Regions from separate parts of the Homo sapiens genome. Here region 2 is linked to region 1. Evidence: fine-mapped expression QTL. A gene starts in region 1. The other region holds a variant in brackets. All regions are shown on one strand. Distances are from middle to middle.

Evidence for each region. PIP is the estimated chance that this variant, and not a neighbour inherited with it, causes the effect.
Region 2: its variant is fine-mapped to the expression of ARSG in whole blood (TOPMed, PIP above 0.99).

The regions. Positions count from the first base shown.
Region 1 is chr17:68,286,223-68,295,463 of GRCh38, reverse strand. It overlaps ARSG (arylsulfatase G), which reads right to left and starts at 3,969. Exons shown (of 12, transcript NM_001267727.2): 1 at 3,896-3,969. SLC16A6 (solute carrier family 16 member 6) reads left to right here and starts at 4,337. Exons shown (of 6, transcript NM_004694.5): 1 at 4,337-4,378. RefSeq lists an enhancer at 2,882-3,111 and silencers at 3,971-4,145, 3,512-4,201.
Region 2 is chr17:68,307,757-68,316,997 of GRCh38, reverse strand. The region is part of intron 2 of ARSG (arylsulfatase G); the gene reads right to left. Among named protein-coding and RNA genes, the nearest start is that of ARSG, 21 kb to the right of the region's middle. The variant T/C (reference allele first, on the strand shown) is at 4,596.

The DNA.
Region 1 (9,241 bases):
AGTAATAAATGGCAAAACTACAGGAGCAGTCAACTATGAAGACTGAGAAGCCTAGGAATGAAATTCAGTACTGATCAAGTAAAAGTTACTTCAGAGTTAATGACAGACACCAACGATACATCGATACTGCACCAAATGGTAACAGGTATGACAGAAATCAATCATCGGCCGCCCACACACACGAGTGGGAAGGTGACCTCACTGTCCCCAAATACAGAATGGCCTCACCTACCTCCTACCTTCTTCTCATGCTGTTCACCTCTCCCTTGGCTCAGCACCCCTTGCCAGTTCTCCCAAGGTCCTCTCTGCCAGTTGAAGGCTTCCCTGATCGCCATCCTCCTCAATCCCCCAGGACTCACAGGTTGAAAGAGTCGCAGCCAAGAGTTAGGGAACCTGACCATGAGCCAATCCCAGTGCTAAGCCCCTTGCACGTGTTAATTCAGTTAACTTAGCAACTGTACTAAGCCATGCACACAACTCTGTAGTATTATTATTATCATCGTCATCACTATCTGTGCCTCAGAACCCCTTGGCAAATCTTTAAATTCTCCCAGAAGTGTGTGTTTCCCAGTTTGAAGGGCCCTGCCTTCCTACAAACTGTGAAATTTGGCGGGGTGCTGCGGGGGAGGAACCCAAATCACAAAATAAACCTAGCAGAACTACCTGTACCATCGGTTCACTGTTGCTAGATGGCAGAGTGTGTGAAGTTCCTGGCCAATTGGAGAAGCAGATATTAAAGTTTTAAAGCAAGAAATTGCTTCAGTGGCATACAAGTCACTTGCCCAGAACACAAGCCCCTGGGTGGGAGCATGGTGGGTGGAACAGAGACTGGAAGAGGAAGAATGGAAGGGTGGGTGGGCCATCGAAGCCTCCCATGGAAGCCCCCTTCACATATTCTCCCCCTTTGATGGCTGCCCTGAAGAGTCAGCCCCCAAAAGCAGGCTTGCGGGACCCTCTTCCCAGAGGTCCAGACCAGATTCCTTTCAGTCTACTTACCCAAGTTGAAGTTCTCACAGGCTGGTAAATGCAGTGAGCTTATTTGCAAGCCAGGGTCATATCTGCCTAGCAACCCAACACGAAGACTTGAAGGACTATAAACGTGGACAGAGAACAGGCAGGCCAACTTTACACAAAGGAATCTGTTCTCATGCAAATGACCCTATGCAAGAGGGCTAAAAGAGGGAGCCTTGGGGACAGCTCTGAAGAGCCAACTTTTTCCCCAAGAAGATGTTGGGGGTCTTCTTAAGGGCATCATGATGGTCTTGCCCACTGTAAAGGAAAGCCGAGAGGGGGCTCTGCCTGCCACTTGGGATCAGGCAGACACAACAGGAGAGGCTAAGAGGGGAGCTGAGCCCTTCACTTGATTTCCTGATTTTTCTGGTCCTGTACTCCAGACTCCAAAGGTTCTTTTGTTCTTATTTAGAACTAAACAGAGTTAGTTTTGTTTGGGGGCAAGGGGGCGTTGATTAGCATGGCAATGCAGTGCTTTCTCTGGAGAAGTTAAAAAAGCAGGGGTTTTCACGCTTGGTCTCACTAGGATTGAGGGAACAAGGTGAAGCCAGCCTCTAACTAGGGTGGGCAAAAGTCATGTTGCGTGACTTTTTTGTGACTAGCAAGGCTGTGCGTAGGTTGGGTTTCCAGCTACCTCTCCATTATTCAAACACAGATGGCAAATGTCATCTTTGGATGAGCTCTAGTGGTAAAAAGTGCTAGTGTGTATCTATAAACATGGTGTAACCTTAGGTCAATCCCTCCAGTGCTCAGTGCCTCCACTTTCCTCATCTGTAAAATGGGAATAATGAGTGTCAACTACAGAAGGTTACTGATGCGGTTAACATTGCATTACATGTATGGCACTTAATGCAGTGTTGAGGACAAAGCAAACATTTAAAAAAGATTAATATTAATAAAATATAAGAATAGTAACACATTAGTAACAAAAATCTATTATTATTATTATTATTATTATTAGAATCATGCTCCCCAAAAGCCAGGTTTCACTTGCTCAAACATTCAGATGTGATTTTTCCAATCATTCATTCACTCCTGAGGATTTAGGTATAATTTGAGTCATTTTTTAAATCAAGAGACTGAAGTACAGAGATTTTATGTGACTTGCTTCGAGTCACTCAGGTATAAATGGCTGGCTGCACCTTTAGGTTCCTAAGACATACAGAATATGCTGTCATATTGCACATGATATTTCCATATAGAGTACAGTAACAGGTCCTAAGTATTAAAGTGTAAGATCCTAAATATCAAAGATTATCTTACAGGCAGCCCTGCATTAGCATGAAGTGTTCAAATCAGTTTCTAAATATCATTATATATGGATCCTTTGAAGAACAACTCAAAAAAGGGCTCTCTCTCACAGGGAGTGTGTTGGAGTCAGCAATTAATTGGCCTTGGTAAAGCATAAATCGTAACAGCAGCAAGAGCTAATGGGTACTGAGGCCTTACCAAATGCCAGTCACTGCGATCCGCACTTTACAAGTACCATAAATTAAACCCTCCAATTCTGGGAATACCACCTCCATCCCCATTTTACAGATCTGGAGAAATTAACGCTCTACGAGGTTAAATTACGCCTACAAGGTTGCAAAGCTGCTCAGCGGCCCCTTGGCTGTACACTACTGGCCATACAAGGCACCCTGTACCAACGAATCTTCTCCCCACTTACACAACCAGAACTTGTCAACGGCAAAGGATGGCATTTAACTCAGGAGAGCCTATCCCAAAATGGTGAGAGAACTCAGCGAGCAAGGAAGGATTTTTATTAAAATTCAGATCGCCGACTCCTCCCGGTGGCGACCCTCCGTGCATGCACTCCCAAACTAGGCTCTCTTGAGTTTCTGACATCAGAACCACATTCTCCGAACCCCAATGAAGGCAGCAGCCGGCGCCAAAGTCTGCATACGAATGCAAATAACATGGCCTTTGCTTCCGAGCAGTTTCCAAATTTGCCCTCGGGATGTGAGGTAGAGACCAAGAAGCTAAGTTTGCGCCCCCGCAGGCTCTGAAATGTCTAGGATCTGACACATGCTTTGTCCCCATGAGGAGCTCCTGAGATTTCGCGTGCATCATCCGCTTAGTTCACGGTGACCTTGGGGTCGGGGACTACGGGATGAGGGGCACGGACTGTCTAAACCTCCAGGTCCCTTACAGAGGGCTCCCCGCGGGTATGGGAGCCATGCACCTGTGCCGACGCCGCCACTGCCTGGAGGGTGCGCGCGCGCCCCGGGCCGGGGATGCTGACTCAGCCCGGCTGCTCACATTCCTTTCGCGCAACGCGGATGCTGTTGCTGCCGCTGCTGCCGGTGCAGCAAAGTGGGGGAAGCAAGGCACCCGCAGCGGCCCGGCCGCTCGCTCCCTGGGGCCCACTGCGACACTCCCTCCCCACTGCCGGAAGGGGAACTGTGGGGGTGCGCGAGTTGACGAAACTGGGGGAAGTGGGCGCTGCAGGAGGAACTCAGGCGCCGCGCGCGCAGCTCACACCCAAACTGGAAGGAACCTGTTCTGCCCGGGGCGGGCGCGAAGCCGCCGCAGCCGCGAGCGCCGCGCGGGATCAGCCCCGGCGCGCGCGTGTTCCCCCTCGCCGCTAAATCCCTAAATCCTCAGGGCGCGGGCGGGACTGGGCGGTGGGCGCGCCGGGAAGGCGCCCGGGGGTGGGGACGGGGACCCGCGCGCTCGCGCCTGGCCGAGGTGCTCCGAGACAGGATGCAGGCACCCCCAACACCCTGCACGCTCGCGCTCCTACTAGCGTTGCAGCAAAGCTCCGGGGTCTGGGCGGGTCACGCGCGCAGAGGCGCACCCGGGTTGGGAGATCGGGGCGTTGTGCCAAGGACCCCGGCGGCGCTGGCGGGGGCGGCCCGGCCCCGGACCGCGACGCGGTTACCTTTCGTGACCCCCAGCCCAGGCGGCAGGCTGGCGGGCGCGCGACCGGCGCGGCTCAGGTCCACGTGGGACGGCGCGCGCGCGCCAGGCAGGCCCCCTCCTTGGCTGCGCTCAGCGCTCGCAGCACATGGTCGGCGGCGGCGCGCCCCCGAGGCCGGCGGAGACCGGCTGCAGCCGGTATAGGATAAGAGCTAGGCAGCGACGCGGGGCCGGGGCGCGGGCGGCAGCACGCACGGCCCGGGTCGCAGGCGGCCGGGGTGGGGGGCGGGGGGAGGGTGTGGCTCGGGTGCCCGAGTCGCGGGAGTGGGTGGAGGGCCCGGGCGCTCGGGCCTCACCAGCCCGAGCCAACTTGCGCTAGAGTCGGGCCCGCCCCCTAAGGGGTTAATCCTTTTCTCATGTTACCGAGCGGCTTATAAGGAGGGGGAGGCCAAGCCTCCGCCTTATTGGGAGCCTTTGGGGGTTTATTCTCTTCCCTTCTAACTTGGTGAGTTGGTTTATTATTTTACATGTTTAAAAGTTTGATTGTGGGATGTGGGTTGTTTTTTAAAAAATATGTGTTGGGGCCTTTTTTTGTGATGGGAGGCGGAGGAGACCACTGAACATCTTCACATTTTGGAGAGGTTATTCCCAAAAATATTCGCTCTGACAGTTAGGAATGCCCAGGGCCACCGGGATGACGCGCTCGCGCCGGTGTGGGTAGCTGAGAGTTGAATGTCCGTGACCCTGGTACAGTTGGGTCCCGGAAGATACCTAAAGGCACGCCTGGCCTTTGAGTGCCCCCTGCCCCGGGTTGGGGGCTCCGGGACGTCGGAAGAGTCGGGGGCTCCAGGCTCAGCCCCTCCGCGGATTTTCCGCATGAAGTTGCCTGCGCGTCGCAGGAGCGAAATGTCAGAGGTACCTTCCTACCCCAGGCTGGCGCGCGCACGCAGGCCGGGCACTGAGGCAGCGCGAGGGAAAGTGGGGCTCCCTGCCTCCCCCGACCCCCAAACACAGCACTCCCTGCGGCGGCCACCGTTTGTCCCCAGCGGGAAGCCGGGGATTTCCCGGCAGAGCGCGGGTCCTCCACCTGGACTGTCAGAACTGTCAGCGGCTGACGGCCGGTCCCGCGCAACTTCAAGGTTCCCGGGCTGCCAACCGCAGGAAAGCGCTGGTGTCGCCAAGCAGTTCCGTAGCAAGGGAAGATGGTTTTGCAGAGGAAATGGGTTATTTCCTTCTAGGTTGTTGTCGTCTTTTCTTTTTATTCCCCCCACCCTAGCAAGACAGGTCATAGAAGTTTGTTAGGTGGCGTATATAAAATGTCACCAAACATGGGGGGCGTCAGTCTTAGAAAAAGCTCCCCGGAGCCAACTGGGGAAGAGCAATTACAACTTGTCAACCTGGAAGCCGGTTTTGTTTGCACGGTTAGACACTCCGTGCCAGCTCCTTCTCGCAGGAGATGGTTTCTACCCCGGGAATGAGATTTCTCAGTGATCTGATTGTTTTTGCAAATCATGGTAAGATAGGTGTCTTGCTTGTAAAAAAGATGCCAAGTGCTTATGCTGAAATCTCTAAACCATGCATCTCCCCATGTCCCAAGCACCGTTATGTGGCATTTTTGGGGTCAACAATACATCCGGCCAGATGATATAATAGAAACCCCTCTTCTCATAATTAAGGGAAGAGTGTCCAAAATAGGAACTTACAGTGTGTAAATAAACAATGCAGCCAAGTGGAAAAGCTCCTTCCAGTGTAATGAGTACCACTAACCCTGAGTTTTCCTTCTGTGGTTTCCGAAAAAGGACTTTCCTCAGTGGAACTCCTGAGGAGGACACTTAAATTAGGGGCTCAGGTTTCAACACCATAGTCTTGTAAAATGGTGACTCGGTTGTAGCCAGTGATTCAACATCGTGAGGCAGCTATCCAGGTTAGGTTTGGAAATTTTTTTTAAATAGAGAATGCAGATGAACTTTAGCCAAATACAGACTGGTTTTGACAACTTGGGCCAGAAACAACTTGTCAAAGCTGTTCTCCGGGCTACGCCTTTAAGAAGAAGAGAAATCCGCAGTGCTTTTGCTCGAGGTCTGCCTACAACAGTAGCCACCCCATTTCCATCCAGAGCCTGCGTTTTGAAACTTGCTCTTAGCTGACCCTGGAATAACACTCTGATGGTCTACAATAATACAATTTTTTTCATGCCCTCGGGCCAAATCTTCTCTCGACAAATTAAATCACAGTGAAACTCCCAAGGATAGCGGATTTCCAAGCCTTTGGCAAGATACCTACTTATTTATTTGTTTAGAGGCAGGGTCTCACTCCCATCATGGGAGTGCAGTAGCGTCATCTCTGCTCATTGCAGCCTCGACCTCCCGGGCTCAAGCGATCCTCCCACCTCATTTTTTAATTTTTTTGTAGAGACACAGCCTCACTATGTTGCCCGGGTTGGTCTCAAACTCCTGGGCTCAAGTAATCTGCCTGCTTCGGCCTCCCTAATTGCTGGGATTATAGGCATGAGCTACCGCACCCGGCCAATACTCATTTATTTAAGGGGACACTTAACCACATGCTACTAGGAAATCCTCCAAACTGCCCGTGGATTGTGTCATTGTACTTCCTCCAGAAGAACACTAGGGTGAAGGGAAGATGGCTGCCGGGAACCCCCATTCAGAATTGTCGAGTTTTGTAAGTTGGAAAAGGCTTGAGAGACTCCCCTGACAACCCATGCTTTACAGATGATAGAAGTTCTAGAAGTTCAGGATTCTGTGGTTTCCATAACTGTGCAGCCAGTTAATGGTACACAGAAATTAACAAATATGGCCTAAGAGCTTTAAGAAGACCAACTCTTCGGCCTTGCCTTCAAAGGGCTTAGAAGGATTAAAGCAAGTGACGGTCAAAGGCTGTCATAGAAGTATAGACTATTAGGGCAGGAAGAGATCTAAGCTCATCAGAGTCTAGTTCAACTCCCTTTTTTACATTTACCTTGATTTTACATTGACATTGAAAATGGGGAAGTGAAGTGATTTGCCTAAATTCCATCATCCGTAAAGCAGGGGTTGATGGGCAGGATGACTCAGCTCGCCTCACCAGTTAGATCCCTACACAGCTGAAAAATATCCCTACCCGTCAGATAAATTCACATGGCCACAGACCAAAGTGGACAGATAAACTTTTATATTCTGGAACTTACAGAGGCTTCTGCATAAATGAGTTCAAAATTCAGGCCTCAGTTGCTTTGTTTGCAGAGACAGAAGGTTTGGCCTTCTGCTGAAGGAATGGAAAAAAAGAAAAGGAGAAGGCCGGGCACAGTGGCTCACGCCTGTAATCCCAGCACTTTGGGAGGCTGAGGCGGGCGGATCACAAGGTCAGGAGTTTGAGACCAGTCTGACCAACATGGTGAAACCCTGTCTCTACTAAAAATACAAAAAAAAAATCAGCCGGGCGTGGTGGCATGCGCCTTTAATCCCAACTACTCAGGAGGCTGAGGCAGGAGAGTCGCTTGAACCCGGGAGGCAGAGCTTGCAGTGGGCTGAGATCGCACCACTGTGCTCCAGCCTGGGAGACAGACTGAGACTCCATCCCCAACCCCCAAAAAAAAAAAAAAAAGAAAGGAGGGAGGGAGGGGGAGAGAGAGAGAGAGAGAAAGAGAGAGAGAAGAGAAGAAGAGAAGAGAAAAGAAAAAAGGGAGAAGAGTCCAGGAAGGGTTTTATTCTGCAACCAAGCACTTTCTCCCCTTATGACTCGGTTTTTTAAGGAAAGACCTGTGCATGACTTTACTTAAATACAGGCATTATCACCCAGGAAGGTTCAGAAACCAGGTTATCCTGTTATTACTTTATATTGTGGTCTTATCTTCAAAGCTAAATTTAATAGGACATAGGATGCTTTAGGATGATAAAGGCATAAACCTTGGGGGTAGGACGGGGTTCAGGGTGTCATCTTTCCTTGATGGAGATCTCAGTTATAAAAAGAAAAGAAAGCTTCTGTCCAAAAACCCAAGAATGCAGGTGAAAGTTATATGTGGCTCTAGCTAGAGTAGAATAGCTCAGACATAAAGCAGAGTTTTTTAAAAAAACTAAGGAATTAACTTCCCAGCAGTGGCTCAGAAAGGAAATAGAAATGAATAGTCCACCATCTGGCTAGGTGAGGTGGCTCACACGTTTAATACTATCACTTTGGGAGGCCGAGGTGGGAGGATCGCTTGAGTCCGGGAGTTCCAGACCAGCCTAGGCAACATAGGGAGACCCTGTCTCTATTAAAAAAAAAAAGAAGAAGAAGAAGGCTGGGCATGCTGGCTCACGCGTGTAATCCCAGCACTATCGTTTAGATACTATCTAACGTTTAATACTATCACTTTGGGAGGCCAAAGCAGGCAGATCACCTGAGGTTAGGAGTTCAAGACCAGCCTGACCAACATGGTGAAACTCCATCTCTACTAAAACAAAATTAGCCGGGCATGGTGGCGCATGCCTGTAATCCCAGCTTCTTGGGAGGCTAAGGCAGGAGAATCACTTGAACCCGGGAGGTGGAGGTTGCAGTGAGCTGAGATTGTGCCATGGCACTCCAGCCTAGGCAACAAGAGCGAAACTCCATCTCCAAAAACAAAAACAAAAAGTCCACCATCTTCTAAACAGCTGTCATAGAATAGATCTAAGCAATGACCAGCTAGCTACTTTACACCCATGTTTGCAAGAACCATCTAGCATTTACACTTTCTCCGAGCTCAGTTTCCTTGGGCCACCAGGCTTCGCTTAAGCCATCAGTTGATTAATAGAATTCAGTACTAAATTCAAAAGTATCAGCTGTTTCTCACACCTGTAATCCCACACTTTGGGAGGCCAAGGCGGGCAGATCACTTGAGGTCAGGAGTTCGAGACCAGCCTAGCTAACATACTGAAACCTCATCTCTACTAAAAATACAAAAATCAACCGGGCATGATGGTGGGTGCCTGTAATCCCAGCTACTCGGGAGGCTGAGGCAGAAGAATCGCTTGAACCCGGGAGGCTAAGGTTGCAGTGAGCCAAGATCGTGCCACTGCACTTCAGCCTAGGTGACATAGCAAGACTCCATCTCAAAAAAATTAAATACAATAAAATGCTCTCCTGTAGGCTTGTACAGCAGGAGCCCTGGAAGGCAGGAGATTCAGTATTGGGCTATTTCAGTCAAGTCCCTTCACCTCTTGGGGATCAGTTTCCCGATTTTACAAAATGAGTAAGATTTTACAAAAAGGAATTGAAAAAGATAACCTCAATTTTCCCCTTCAGCTTTAACATTCAATAATTCTAACTCTATTCAGGGGTTACAGATTCATCCTAGCCCCATCCCTTTTGCAAGTGTAAACATCTGATGATACAGGCAAGGGAAGAGAGGAAA
Region 2 (9,241 bases), 22 kb before region 1:
CTGAGACCTTTAGGTGTTGACTTGGGGATTTGGTCTAGGAATGAGAAGAAACAAGCAGATTCTAAGAAGCCAGATGAGTCCTACAGCTCAACCTGGGGAAGGGTGAGAGTCTGGGAATAGATAGAGCAAGGTGCTTTTGGAACAGACGCTGAGAAAACAGGCCTCACCCTCCAGCCAGAGGAGGGAATTGTGACGAACAGGGGAGCAGGGCCGGTGTCATAGGGAATCATAAGAGCTAGCACCCATCAAGCACCAATACATGCCAGGGACCCTTTTGCTGCCTTATATGACCTAACTTATTTCCTCCTCACCATAGCCCTGTGATGTAGGTGCCATTATTTTCCCATTGCAGAGATAAGCATACTAAGGTCCAGCAAGGTTTAATAACTAGCACAGTGTCCCAGAGCTAGCAAGTAACAGACCAAGGCAGTCTAGTTCCAGCTCTCATGCTCGGGTCAACCCATGTGTGCACACCTAGAAGTTTAGATCCAGGAATCCAAGTACGTGAACAATTATTGTTTGAGCACCTACCATGTGCCAGGCATTGTTTTAGCCACTGAAGACATAAATAAGACAGATAAGGAGGCTGCTGTAAGGAGGCAATATTCCAGTGGGAGAGACAGGCAACAAAGAAGTAAACAAAGAAGATCATTTCAACAGTGATACAGGTCATGGAAACAGAACAGGAGAATGGGTAGGAGATGTGCATGGGGTAGGAAGGCAATGTTGGAGAGCACGGTCAGGAAAGGCCTCTCTGAGGACATGGTATTTGAGTGGAGGCCAGAAGGATGAGAAGCGATCAGCTGCTTGAAGCCTGAGGAGAGACCTCGCCAATAAGAGGCAACAGCCAGTGCAAAGGCCCTGAGGCAGGGAAAAGCATATGTTCAAGGAACAGAAACATGTGCAATGTGAGGAACATGAGGAGAGGGTTGGAGATGAAGCTGGAGTAGGCAGGATAAGATTGCAGGCACCTGAAACTGCAGCCATCACACATCCCTGGCTGGGTGAGCCTCCTGAACGATGGTTGCATCAACCATTTTGATGACTGACATCTAAATCCCATTTCTGCCTGGGTGCCACCCACGCACTTTGTAATCCCAGCACTTTGGGAGGCCGAGGCAGGTGGATCACCTGAGGTCGAGTTCAAGATCAGCCTGGCCAACATGGTGAAATGCTGTCTCTACTAAAAATACAAAAATTAGCCAGGTATGGTGGCACACACTTGTAGTCCCAGCTACTCGAGAGGTTAAGGCAGGAGAATCACTTGAACCTGGGAGGCAGAGGTTATAGTGAGCCAAGATCGCGCCACTGCACTCCAGCCTAGGCGATAGAGCAAGACTTCATCTTAAAATAAATAACTAAATACAATCCCATTTCTCAGGTTGCCTCTTATGCTTGGACAGCACAAAAATCCTTCATTAGCACCAAAGGGAGAAAAAAAATGATGAGATTCCAATCTCCTTTTTTTTTTGAGACAGGATTTCACTCCATCACCCAGGCTGGAGTGCAGTGACACGATCATAGCTCACTGTGGCCTCAACCTCCTGGGCTCAAGCAATCCTCCTGACTCCGCCTCCGGAGTAGGTAGGACCACGCCCAGCTAATTTATTGATTTTTTTGTAGAGATGAAGTCTTGCTATGTTGCCCAGGCTGCTCTCAAACTCCTGAGCTCAAGCAATCCTTCCGCCTCGATCTCCCAAAGTACTGGAATTACAGATGTGAACCACCACGCCTGGCCTCCTGCTCTTTGACAGCCATATGGGAAAGCTGGCCAAATCTTGATGGATTCTCTTTGCTGATTCCCCAGTTCTGCCCAGCCCTGAAAGAATAAGGCTCTAGAATGAGGAAATCTGAGTTTGAATATTGGCTTGGCCACTCACCAACTCTGGGCGTGTTACTTAACCTCAATTTCCTCATCTGAGATATAAGAGAAAAGTAGGGTGGTACCAAGAATTAGCCAGGGTAATGCCTAGAGCCTGGCACCTTGCAAGAGCTTGGTAAGGGTTAGTGATTGTTGCAGCTGTTGTGTTGATTCAAATAAAGGTGTTGGCCCCAATGCACAGCCAGCATAGGGATTAACAGGAATTTGTCACTGGAACTCCACCTCATCCTTCCAAGTTTTGTCACTGGACCTTTTATCATGCAGATTAGCCAATTCACACTGACATTCCATTTGGACATTTCTAGTAACAATAACAAAAATAACCATAGCTAACATAGAACCCTATCTATTGTATGCTAGGCTCTATGCTAACTGATTACACAGATTACTTAATTTTTTATTTTTTATTTTTTTTATGAGACACTCTGTTGTCCAGGCTGGAGTACAATGGCATGATCATAGCTCACTGCAGCCTTGAACTCCTGGCATTAAGGGATCCGTGTGCTTCAGCCTCTGGAGTAGCTGGGACCACAGATGTGCAACACCACACCTGGTTTACAGATTACTTAATTTTTTTTTTTTTTTTTTTTGAGATGGAGTCTTGCTCTGTTGCCCAGGCTGGAGTACAATGGCGCAATCTCAGCTCACTGCAACTTCCGCCTCCCGGGTTCAAATGATTCTCCCGCCTCAGCCTCCCGAGTAGCTGGGATTACAAGCATGTGCCGCCACGCCTGGCTACTTTTGTATTTTTAGTAGAGATGGGGTTTCTTCTTGTTGGTCAGGCTGGTCTCAAACTCCTGACCTCAGGTGATCCATCTGCCTCGGCCTCCCAAAGTGCTGGGATTACAGGTGTGAGCCACTGTGCCCGGCCCAGATTACTTAATTTAACCCTCACAACATCCTGTGAGGTAGAGGTGCTATCATTGTCCCCACTTACAGAAGAGGAAAGCAAAACTCCAGGGGATGATGCAGTTTGCCCGGGGCCACAGATAGGAAGTGGCAGAGCTGGGATTTGAGCTCAAACTGTCTGGCTCCTGCCCTCTTAAGCATGACATTTAGTCTTTAATGCGACAGATACTGACTGACCACCTACTACATTATAGACTGCGTTAGAAGCGGAGTAAAAAGAGATATGTAGGCCAGGCATGGTGGCTCACGCTTGTAATCCCAGCACTTTGGGAGGCCAAGGCAGGTGAATCACTTGAGGTCAGGAGTTCAAGACCAGCCTGGCCAACATGGCAAAACTCCGTCTCTACTAAAAATACAAAAATCAGCCGTGCGTAGTGGCAGGTGCCTGTAATTCCAGCTACTCAGAAGGCCGAGGCAGGAGAATCGCTTGAACCCGGAGGCGGAGGTTGCAGTGAGCCAAGATTGCACCACTGCACTCCAGCCTGGGCAACAGAGTGAAACTGTGTCTCAAAAAAAAAAAAAAGAGAGAGAGAGAGATACGTAATACAGCTAATTGCACCAGACTGAACAGCGTTCCCCTCAATTTCATATCAATCCAGAACCTGTGACGTGACCTTATTTGGAGATAGCGTCTTCGCAGATGTCATTAAGTTAAGATGAGGTCATACTGGAGTAGGGTGGGCCTTCAATCCAAAGACTGGTATTTTTATTAGAGGAGGGGAGTCTGGACACTGGCATGAAAGAACGCCTCATAACAACTGAGGCGGAGATAGGAGTCTAGAAGCCCAGAATGCCAAGGATTCCAGCAGGCACCAGAATCCAGGAGAGAGGCAAGGAATGGATTCTCTGTCAGAGCCTTCAGTCATAACCTTGATTTTGGACTTCTGGCTCTCCGAACTGTGAAAGGACAAAGTAATGTTTTTTTGTTTTTATTTTTGTTTTTTTTGAGATGGAGTCTCACTCTGTCACCCAGGCTGGAGTGCAGTGGCGCAATCTCGGCTCACTGCAATCTCTGCCTCCCGGGTTCACGCCATTCTCCTGCCTCAGCCTCCTGAGTAGCTGGGACTACAGGCACCTGCCACCATGCCCGGCTAATTTTTTGTATTTTTAGTAGTGACAGCGTTTCACCACGTTAGCCAGGATGGTCTTGATCTCCTGACCTCGTGATCTGCCCGCCTCGGCCTCCCAAAGTGCTGGGATTACAGGTGTGAGCCACTGTGCCTGGCCAGAACAAAGTAACATTTTAAGCTGTCCAGTTTGGAGTAATTTGTTCCAGCAGTCCTAGAAAATTCATGCACAAATAAAAAGGAGGCAACAGAACCGGGCGTGGTGGCTTGAGCGTGCAGTCCCAGCTAGTCACCCCAGACCCTGTTGGGCAATAAGAGTTCGTGTCTGAAAGTCATGGTTCCCCACTGGCCGTGAGTAGGCAGTGGGAGAAACCAGCGATGAATCAGTTCATGGCCTCACAGGAAGCCCGGCTTTCCTGTCAACAAAGAAGAATGAAAAGCCGTCGACCTCAGGCCAGAGGGCTAGCCACCTGGCCACTGTCACAAGGCTCAGATGGAAAGAAACACTTTCATAAGGGGGTGGGGAGAAGGAGAGCCCAACGAACCACATTTGGCATCTGACCCCTGAGTCCTCCTTTCTGCTCAGGATGAGAGTGTGACAGTAGAGACAGCACATGAGAAAAAAAAAACGTGTAGGCCTCGCAAATCTCAGCTTAAATAATGGGACTAATATTTCCCCGCTAACCTGCTAAACACTGAAAGCGGAAGTTCCTAAGCATTTGGCAACCCACGCCCTT[T/C]GGAGAATCTGGTAAATGTTCATGAATGGATGAACTCTCTCCCCAGAAAAGTATTCCTACATGCAAAATTTGGGGTGACATTCCAGGGCATCTTGAGCTCCTAGAGCCCATTTATTGATGAACAAATATTTATTAATTGCCCACTACGTACCAAGCACTGTGTTACATGCTAGGAATATAAGCGGGAAAGAACAGATGAGGCATTTTTCTTCCTGAAGTCCAGAGCTAGGAGGGAGGTGTGTAAGTTTTCTGTGGCTGCCATAACAAATTACCACAAGCTGTGTGGCTTAAAACAACAGTACAGGCCAGGCGTGGTGGCTCAGACCTGTAATCGCAGCACTTTGGGAGGCCAAGGCGAGTGGATCACTTGAGGTCAGGGGTTCGAGAGTAGCCTAGCCAACATGGTGAAACCCCATCTCTACAAAAATACAAAAATTAGCCAGGCATGGCAGCAGATGCTTGTAATCCCAGCTACTTGGGAGGCTGAGGCTGGAGAATCGCTTGAACCTGGGAGGTGGAGGTTGCAGTGAGCCAAGATCGCACTACTGCACTCCAACCTGGGCGACAGAGCAAGACTCCGTCAAAAAAAAAAAAAAAAAAAAGTACAGTACAGGAGGCTAAAAGTCTGAAATCAAGATGTCGGCCGGGCTGGTACCTTCTGGAGGCTCTGAGGGAGAATCTGTTCCATGCCTCTCTCCTTGTTCTGCTGGTTGCCAGCGGTCCTTGGTGTTCCTGGCTTGTAGAGGCATGGCTCCAATCTCTGCCTCCATCTTCACGTCACCATCTCTCTCTGTGTGTCCCTGTGTCTTCTCCTCTTCTTATAAGGAAATGTCACTGGATTTAGGACCCACCCTAAATCGATTCTGAGATCATCGAGAGCCTTAATTAATAACATTTGCAAAGACCCTGTTTCCAAATATGGTCACATTCTGAGGTTCTAGATGGACATGAATTTAGGGAGGATGCTATTCAACCCAATGTAGTGGTCAGATGATTGAACAGCCACCACAGAAAGCAGCAAGGACCATCACAGAACACCCGAGGCATCCACGAAAGCTTTCCTGAGGCCCTCGTGTACAACTGAGACCTAAGTAGTGAGTAGAAACTAATTAAACAGAGGAAGTGGAGAGTGCACCAGGATGAACCCATCACACAGATGAAGGGAGGGCTCATCCAAAGACCACTGCAAGAGAGAAGAGTGGAGAAGAAATCAGTTTGGGGTTTTGTTGGTTTTGTTTGTTTGTTTTGAGACAGAGTCTCAGTCTGTTGCCCGGGCTGGAGTGCAGCAGTGCAATCTCAGATCACTGCAACCTCTGTCTCCCAGGTTCTCCCGTGCACCGCCACATCTGGCTAATTTTTGCATTTTCAGTAGAGATGGGATTTCGCCATGTTGGCCAGGCTGGTCTTGAACTCCTGTCAAGTGATGTGCCCACCTTGGCCTCCTAAAGTGCTGGAATTACAGGCGTGAGCCACCACACCCAGCCAAACTCCAGTTTGTTAGCTGTGGTATGGGGTATGGGTTTTATCCTTAGGGCTAAAAAATGTCTTTGAAGGACTGGAAGCAGAAGAGTGTTTCTACAAAGTTCACCTTGATGGAGGTGAGGAAGAACTGGAGTGGGTGAGACCAGATGCAGAAACTACCACCCACCAAGGGCGCGTATCTCAGGAAAAGCATCAAGCTCTAGGATGCAAGTGGCCAAAACTCTGTGGAGATGCCCTATGCGTCATCCTAAGCGGTGAGCTGAAATGATTCCCCCCGAACCACATGGAGGAGTTTCGCCCAGTGCAGACAGAATCCGAGCTGGACAATCAGACCAATGTTAGCCCAAGAAGAAAATCCTGAAGTCTGAAAGCTCTAACGCTTGTTCTCCATCTAAGAAGGGAAAGGAGCTGGGTGTTTTAACAAAAATCTGCAATAGCTGTTTTCTAAACACTTCAACTCATCAGATGCATAGGCTCCTCTTTTGTGGTCCCTTAGAGTTCAGTATGCCTTAAGTGTAAGCCACGCCTTTCATAAATAAGTGAGTCACATCTCCCACGCCTCACAGACTCTCTTTTGCTCTTCAAAGGCCATCTCCTCCCTTGAAACCCCAGGTTGGGTTCCACACCCTCGCTTCTGTTCTCCAAAAACTCTGGATGTTGGGGCTGGGTGTGGTGGCTCACGCTTGTAATCCCAGCATTTTGGGAGGCCGAGACGGGCGGATCACCTGAGGTTGGGAGTTTGAGACCAGACTAACCAACATGGAGAAACCCGATCTCTGGGGTTTCTCCCCAGGTGGCACACACCTGTAATCCCAGCTACTCGGGAGGCTGAGGCAGGAGAATCGCTTGAACCCGGGAGATGGAGGTTGCAGTGAGCTGAGATCGTGCCACTGCACGCCAACCTGGGCAACAAGAGCGGAACTCCATCTCAAAAAAAAAACACAACAAAACAAACAAACAAACAAAAAACTCTGGATGTGGGCTCAGAAGCTATTTGCTTATAATTCTTATTTCCCTTTCTTTCTTTATTTATTTACTTTTTTATTTTATTTATTTTTTTTTAGACAGAGTCTCACTCTTATTGCCCAGGCTGGAGTGCAGTGGTGCGATCTCAGCTCACTGCAACCTCTGCCTCCCAGGTTCAAGTGATTCTCCTGCCTCAGCCTCCCGAGTAGCTGGGGTCACAGGTGCCTGCCACTGCGCCCGGCTACATTTTGTATTTTTAGTAGAGAGAGGGTTTCGGCAGGTTGGCCAGGCTAGTCTCGAACTCTTGACCTCAGGTGATCCACCTGCCTCAGCCTCCCAAAGTGCTACAGGCGTGAGCCACTGCACCCAGCCTATTTACTTATTTTTTAAGAGACAGAGTCTCGCTCTGTGACCCACACTGGAGTGCAGTGGCACAATCATAGCTCACTGCAACCTTGAACTCCTGGGCTCCAGTGATCCTCCTGAGAGGTGACAGCGTGCTGGCAGTCCTCACAGCCCTCGCTCGCTCTCGGCGCCTCCTCTGCCTGGGCTCCCACTTTGGTGGCACTTGAGCCCTTCAGCCCACCGCTGCACTGTAGGATCCCCTTTCTAGGCTGGCCAAGGCGAGAGCCGGCTCCCTCGGCTTGCAGGGAGGTGTGGAGGGAGAGGCGCGAGCGGGAACTGGGGCTGCGTGCTGCGCTTGTGGGCCAGCTGGAGTTCCGGGTGGGCGTGGGCTTGGCGGGCCCCGCACTCGGAGCAGCCAGCTGGCCCTGCGGGCCCCGGGCAATGAGGGGCTTAGAACCCGGGCCAGCAGCTGCGGAGGGTGTACTAGGTCCCTCAGCAGGGCCAGCCCACCAGCACTGCACTCGATTTCTCACCGAGCCTTAGCTGCCTTCCTGTGGGGCAGGGCTCGGGACCTGCAGCCCGCCATGCCTGAGCCTCCCACCCCCTCCGTGGGCTCCTGTGCGGCCCGAGCCTCCTCGAGCACCACCCCCTGCTCCACAGCGCCCAGTCCCATCGACCACCCAAAGGCTGAGGAGTGCAGGCGCAGGGCGCGGGACTGGCAGGCAGCTCCACCTGCAGCGCCGGTGCGGGATCCACTGGGTGAAGCCAGCTGGGCTCCTGAGTCTGGTGGGGCCTTGGAGAACCTTTATGTCTAGCTCAGGGATTGTAAATACACCAATCGGCACTCTGTATCTAGCTCAAGGTTTGTAAACACACCAATCAGCACCCTGTCAAAACAGGCCACTCAGCTCTACCAATCAGCAGGATGTGGGTGGGGCCAGATAAGAGAATAAAAGCAGGCTGCCCGAGCCAGCAGTGGCAACCCGCTCAGGTCCCTTTCCACACTGTGGAAGCTTTGTTCTTTCGCTCTCTGCAATAAATCTTGCTACTGCTCACTCTTTGGGTCCACACTGCTTTTATGAGCTGTAACACTCACCATGAAGGTCTGCAGCTTCACTCCTGAAGCCAGCGAGACCACGAGCCCACCGGGAGGAACGAACAACTCCAGACGCACCGCCTTAAGAACTGTAACACTCACCGTGAAGGTCTGCAGCTTCACTCCTGAGCCAGTGAGACCATGAACCCACCAGAAGGAAGAAACTCCGAACACATCTGAACATCAGAAGGAACAAACTCCAGACGTGCCACCTTAAGAGCTGTAACACTCACCGCGAGGGTTTGCAGCTTCATTCTTGAAGTCAGTGAGACCAAGAACCCACCAATTCCAGACACACTCCCACTTCAGCCTCCCGAGTAGCTGAGACCACAGGAGCGTGCCACCACCGCTAGCTAATTTGCTTTTATTTTTTGTAGAAGTGGGATCTTGCCAGGTTGCCCAAGCTGGTCCCAAAATCATGGGCTCAGGTGAACCTCCCACCTGAGTCTCCCAAAGCATTGGGATTACAGCCATGAGCCACTGTACCTAGCCCCTTACTTTCCTTTTAACCTGTCTTCTCTACCAGACAATGAATAACTTGAGGGCAAAAATGTTTTATCTTGTTCACCTCTGTATTCCTAGCTCCTAACACATAATGAATGTTACTAGATAGATGGATGGGTGCTAGATGGCTGGATTTCTTCACGATGCTATGCTGGCTTCAAACCAAATTAATTAATAAATTAACTAAATCAGCATGGGTCCATCAATGACTCTTTAAGTGCTTTGCACGGCCCCTTCCCCTCTCAAGAACGGG